Regions from separate parts of the Homo sapiens genome. Here region 2 is linked to region 1. The links come from fine-mapping of genetic effects on gene expression. A gene starts in region 1. The other region holds a variant in brackets. All regions are shown on one strand. Distances are from middle to middle.

What was found. PIP is the estimated chance that this variant, and not a neighbour inherited with it, causes the effect.
Region 2: its variant is fine-mapped to the expression of LINC01219 in prefrontal cortex (CommonMind, PIP 0.95).

The regions. Positions count from the first base shown.
Region 1 is chr11:1,989,677-1,992,580 of GRCh38, forward strand. It overlaps LINC01219 (long intergenic non-protein coding RNA 1219), which reads left to right and starts at 1,420. Exons shown (of 3, transcript NR_126400.1): 1 at 1,420-1,583; 2 at 2,262-2,604. MRPL23-AS1 (MRPL23 antisense RNA 1) reads right to left here and starts at 244. Exons shown (of 4, transcript NR_024471.1): 1 at 150-244. It also overlaps a transcript of MRPL23 not described here. RefSeq lists enhancers at 1-2,133, 1-2,133.
Region 2 is chr11:1,900,805-1,903,708 of GRCh38, forward strand. It overlaps LINC01150 (long intergenic non-protein coding RNA 1150), which reads left to right. Exons shown (of 4, transcript NR_120534.1): 2 at 1,786-1,920; 3 at 2,300-2,452. It also overlaps a transcript of PRR33 not described here. Among named protein-coding and RNA genes, the nearest start is that of LINC01150, 5.5 kb to the left of the region's middle. The variant C/T (reference allele first, on the strand shown) is at 1,312.

The DNA of each region.
Region 1 (2,904 bases):
AGCTGAGGTCCTTCCCAGGGGCCATTCTGGGACCCCTGACCCCATGCACCTGTGTCACAGGGCTATGAGCGCCCCCAGCCCCAGGACCTCCACGTTTCTCTCTAGAGGGAAGAGGAGGAGGACGGCAGGCCTGCTGGCCCCACACTTACTGGTTGGGGACGCTCAGAGGGGGCAGCCGCCATGCCGGGAAGTTAGGGTGGGCAGAGGAGCAGCGGTGCCAGGACCCCCAGGCCATGCTGCCACCCCGGACCCTGAACAGTGGGCTAGTGTGTGGGCCTGGGGAGTGAGGGCCCAGGCCGGGCTGGGTCTCGCTCCATAAACCCTGGCTGGCCGGAGCTGCAGACATCACTGTTGACACAGGGGTGATGTCACTGCCGGCCAATGGGGAGACCCTCGGGGGCCCTACGTGTGCCTCTCTGTGCTCCCAGGGCCCCCGCCACGCACGCCGCCTGCTCTGAATGCTGCCTGCATAAACCGGTTTTTCTAAATGTCTTTGGGGCCCTGCTTGCCCCCTGGGCCCCATCTCCTGCTCATCCCACCCCACCCTTGGGCCCAGCCTATGAGCCAAGCGGGAGTGGGGAGTGGCGGAGAGCCCTGGGCCTGCCCGCTCCCACAGGCATGTGGGCCCCAGAGCCCTGACCCCTGCACCTTCACCTCGCCAGCCTCTCTCCCATCTGCCACGACCCCAGCTGCCACCATGGCTCCCCACAGTCACCCCTGGGCCGTCTCTTCCTCCTGTCGGGAGAATGTTCCTCCTGGGAGAGCCTGAGGCCCCCTCTCTGCTCCTTGCTCCCCCGTCTGTCTCCCCTGCCCTGCCTTGCAGCCCTGCCCTGGGTCCATATGCTCAGAGCTGGCTACATATCCTGTGGCTGCCCATGACACATAGCTCCCCCAGGCAGGGCCGGACCCCGGGCACCTCTTTGCCTCCAGGGCCGGCCCCACTCTGTTGGAGGTCAGCCGGTTCCGAGGCCTCCAAGCCGCCTTTCTACTTCTCGATTCCAGGGCCTGGTCTCCACTCCCTCTGGGCTTTGGGGTGCATGCTGCAGTGCAGCCTCCCCGCGCCCCGGCCTCCATGCACCCTGCTCGTGCTGCCTCAGAGGCTTGGCATCTCCCCCATCTTCCAGCCAGGCAGCCAGTTTTCTGCAACGTGGGGCCCACGGTCAGCGTCCCCCACAGCCCTGCCAGCCCTTCTCCCCGGGGGTCCGCCCTGCACCCCCTTCCCAGGAGCTTGCTCTGCACCCACTGCTGGGCCTCCTGGCCTAGGGGCTTGGCACGTGCCTGTGAGCAGAGGCGCTGGGCAGGAGGAGGAGGAGGAGCCTGCAGTGCCTGGCGCCCGTGTGTGTTTACTGGTCCGGCCCCAGCCCCGCGCCGCTCCCCGCGGACCCGGCCTCCCGCCTGTGTCCAGCCAGGTGTTGGGTGATGGAGCGGGGCTCCCTAAGGACAAGGAGCACAGTGTCTGCTTTCTTTGCAAGCACAGTGCTGACAAGGAACAGAATACCCACAGCGACTGCTTCCAGGAAACGGCTGCAGGGCGGGCGGGAGCCTCTGCGAGAGCAGCCCCTTCCCAGCAAGCCGGCCTGCAGGTGGGCTTCCAGGAAGGGGCCCCCGCTGGCTTCCCTCAGCCCTGGAAGGGGGCCAACGGTGTCACCAGGAGCAGGCCAGGGAGCGGGGTAGAGGGGGGAGAAAGAGAAAGGAGAGGCGCGGAGGAGGGAAGGAGGGACGGGGCGCAGGCCTATGCTATGCCTAGTGTGGTTACCACAGCCTTAAGGGAGAGCAAGGCTGACCACAGCTCCTTCTCGAACCTTCCAATCCCCCTTTTGAGAAGTCACAAGATCTCCACTCAGGTCTTTGGCTCTCTGGGGCTTGTCAGGCATCACACACACACACACACACACACACACACACACACACACCCGTGCACACCCATCTGAAAACACAAGCAAGCTGGGCCACTGGGGGAGACCATTCCCTGAGACCCAGCCGGGGTCCAGGTTGAGGGGCTGACCTCCTGGCCCCCATGTTGGGAGGGCCGAGGAGGGCCCCCGCCCGGACCCACTGCGCCCTTGGCTCTGAGTGCTCAGATCCCACCCCCATCTCTAGAGAGGAGGAAATCATTTATCTTCCTGGGAGCTCGGGGTCGGGGAGAGGGGGCTGCCCTCCTTGAGTCCCCGACTGTTTTCTTTGAGACTTCCCAGGGTGCATTGTAGTCAGACCCAAAACATCGCTTTGTCCCTGTTGAAGGGACTTCACTTCCTTCGTAGAGTTGGGATTTTCTGTCTCCATTCGGTGGTATACCAAGTGCCTGCCTCCCACACCCAGCTGCCCCTAATCCCTGCCTGAAAACGTGCTCCTGGGTCACGGAATTCATGCTGAGACACAGCCACACACAGCCAGGCTCAGGGGTCCACCCTCCAGGGAACACCACCCCGCTACAGGGCCACGATCACACACACACCCCGCGGAGCATCTCCGGGCCGGACAGGACCCACGCCCTCCACAGCCCGGAAAGGCGGGTTAACTGGTCAGCATGCAGAGACCCACCAAGTGGAGACCCCGCTCCCAGGCACAGACGCACAGCTGTGGATGCACGTCCTCGGTGACAAGGTAGCTGAGGTCGCGTGCCCCGGGTGTGTACGGCCCACAGAGCCACAGGGGACTCGCCAGGAGATGCGTGCACCGAGGGTCCAGCGTGGCCACAGCAGCAGCACGCGCCTCAAGTCCTCTTCTCTAACTGGATGACTTGGTCTTCACTCAACCTAAACGTGCCGCAGAAACTTGGGTGGGTGGAGGGTCTGGGTGTGAAGACCTCGGTGCCTAACAGGGTCTGGGACGTGGCCAGAAGCCAGGGCACCCTCAGGGTCTCCCTGAACGGTGGAAGTTCCTCCCTCCCCAGATTTCCTGGCA
Region 2 (2,904 bases), 89 kb before region 1:
CATTTCTTATTTGGCAGTGCTTCCCATGTAATTTAATTTATCAAATACTTCTGTCTCTCTCTTTTTTGGATACTATAGGGGCCCTTAGTAGCTCTCTCCACTGGGAAAGGCTGTTATCGTCTTTGTTTTAAACTATAAACTAAGTTTCTCCCAAAGTTAGTTCAGCCTACTCCCAGGAATAAGCAAGGACAGGAATAAGCAAGGAGGTTAGAAGCAAGATGGAAGGGCCAGGCACGGTGGCTTACGCCTGTAACCCCATCACTTTGGGAGGCCGAGGTGAGCAGATCACAAGGTCAGGAGTTCCAGACCAGCCTGGCCAATATGGTGAAACCTCATCTCTACTAAAAAAAATACAAAATTAGTCGGGCGTTGTGGCAGATGCCTGTAATCCCAGTTACTTGGGAGGCTGAGGCAGGAGAATCGCTTGAACCCAGGAGGCAGAGGTTGTGGTGAGCCAAGTTTACGCCATTGCACTCCAGCCTGGGCGACAAGAGCAAAACACCACCTCTAAAAAAAAAAAAAGGCAAGATGGAGTCAATTAAGTTAGATGTCTCTCACCGTCTCAGTCAAAGAGACAATGCAAAGGTGGTTTCAGCTTTTTCCTAAATATTATCAGATACATGTCATACAGAGAGACATATAGTCATAACAGACACAGATAGAAACAGATCTTACAGATTTCAGAAAGAATTTTCATTTGCCAGCTTTCAAATAGTTTTCTTTTCCCCCTTTAGACTATCAATCTTCTAATTACTTGTTTTATCATCCTAAGCAATCGTTAGCTAGGGAACAATTTGCCTTCAAAAAAGATAACTCTTAGGTGAAACAAGGCAGAAAATGTATATATGAAAAGCTATTTAAGCTGAGACTTTCAGCTTAAATACTGTACCATCATCATTTGCTCAACCAAGAAAAAAGCAAGGCCCAGTGAAGACAACATGGCCAGGAAAAACACGTTAAACAAAGGTAAGACTTGTTACGTAAATTTAAAACAAAGGGATGTCCCTCCCAGACGTTGCAAATGGAAATGTCTTGTGGAGATGTAAATTTCTTTCACAAAATGGTTTCAAGGTAGCCGTTGAATGTCAGAAAGGTGCATTTTAGTTATTAGGCTGGTTGAAAAGTAATTGCAAAAACCACAATTATGGCCGGGCGCGGTGGCTCACGCCTGTAATCCCAGCACTTTGGGAGGCCGAGGCGGGTGGATCATGAGGTCAGGAGATCGAGACCATCCTGGCTAACATGGTGAGATCCCGTCTCTACTAAAAATACAAAAAGTTAGCCGGGCGTGGTGGCGGGCGCCTGTAGTCC[C/T]AGCTACTCGGGAGGCTGAGGCAGGAGAATGGTCTGAACCCGGGAGGCGGAGCTTGCAGTGAGCAGAGATCGCGCCACTGCACTCCAGCCTGGGCGACAGAGTGAGACTCTATCTCAAAAAAAAAAAAAAAACACACAATTACTTTCACACCAACCTGTGGATAGGTGGTCCTTCTAATGTGGCTACTGCTTCTTAGCTGAAATTACTGAGTACAGGGTGGGACCCATTAAGGAATAAGGCAAAGAAAGGCTTCCCTCGGCCTGGGCTCAGCGTGGGTGGATCTGAAGTAAAGCCTGCTGGATCTGAGAGACCTTTTAGACACACTTCATCTAGGATAGCTTTCTGTATGGGATAGTAACCAGGCCAAAAGCTCAGCAGATTCATTTTTTCTTATCAATTGGTCACTTAAGCTTTTTCTTTGTCTTAATTAATTTATATTTATGATCTTATTTTGTCTTTATCTTATTTGACAGGGTGTTGCTCTGTCACCCAGGCTGGAGTGCAGTGGTGCCATCATAGCTCACTGCAATTGTTACAGGAGAGGGGTCCTGATCCAGACCCCAAGAGAGGGTTCTTGGATTTGGATCCTGTGCAAGAAAGAATTCAGGGTGAGTCCACGGCGCAAAGCAAAAACAAGTTTACTAAGAAAGTAAAGGAATAAAGAATGGCTACTCCATAGACCGAGCAGCCCCGAGAGCTGCTGGTTGCCCATTTTTTGGTTATTTCTTGATGAGATGCTAAACCAGGGGTGGATTACTCATGCCCCCCACCCCTGCTTTTTAGGCCATACAGGGTAACTTCCTGACGTTGCCACGGCATCTGTAAACTGTCATGGTGCTGGTGGGAGTGTAGCAGTGAGGACGACCAGAGGTCACTCTCGTCACCATCTTGGTTTTGGTGCATTTTAGCCGGCTTCTTTACTGCAACCTGTTTTATCAGCAAGGTTTTTATGACCTGTATCTTGTGCCGACCTCCTGTCTCATCCAGTGACTTAGAATGCCTGACCATGTGGGAATGCAGCCCAGTAGGACTCAGTCTCATTTTACCCAGCCCCTGTTCAAGATGGAGTCGCTCTGGTTCACACGCCTCAGACACAGCCTCTGCCTCCCGCCTCAGCCTCCTAAGCAGCTGGGACTACAGGTGAGTGCTACCGTGCCTGGCTAATTTTTTTTTTTCCGTAGAGATAGTGGGGAGCTGTGGAGCGGGGGGTGGGGGGCGGGTGTCTCACTGTATCGCCCAGGCTGGTCTCAAACTCCAGGGCTTAAGCAATCTTCCCACCTTGGCCTCTCAAAGTGCTGGAATTACAGGCATGGGCCACCTTGCCAGGCCTCATTTGCCTTTTGTGCAGACACTTTTAAAAGAGGGAGTAAAAATACTGAAATCATTTTAGAAGCTTCTTCACATCAATTGGCATCCCTGATGAGGCTAATTAGGAGCCCTTGTTTTTAGGTGCACTTCTTAAAGTGCAGTGGTGTTCACTTGGAACATCCCACCGTAATTTTCATTCACCTTTAGTAAGATGCCACCATTTCTGTAAACATCTGCCGCGTCCGGGACCTAACACGTACGGACATACGAGCCAGAAGGTGCTC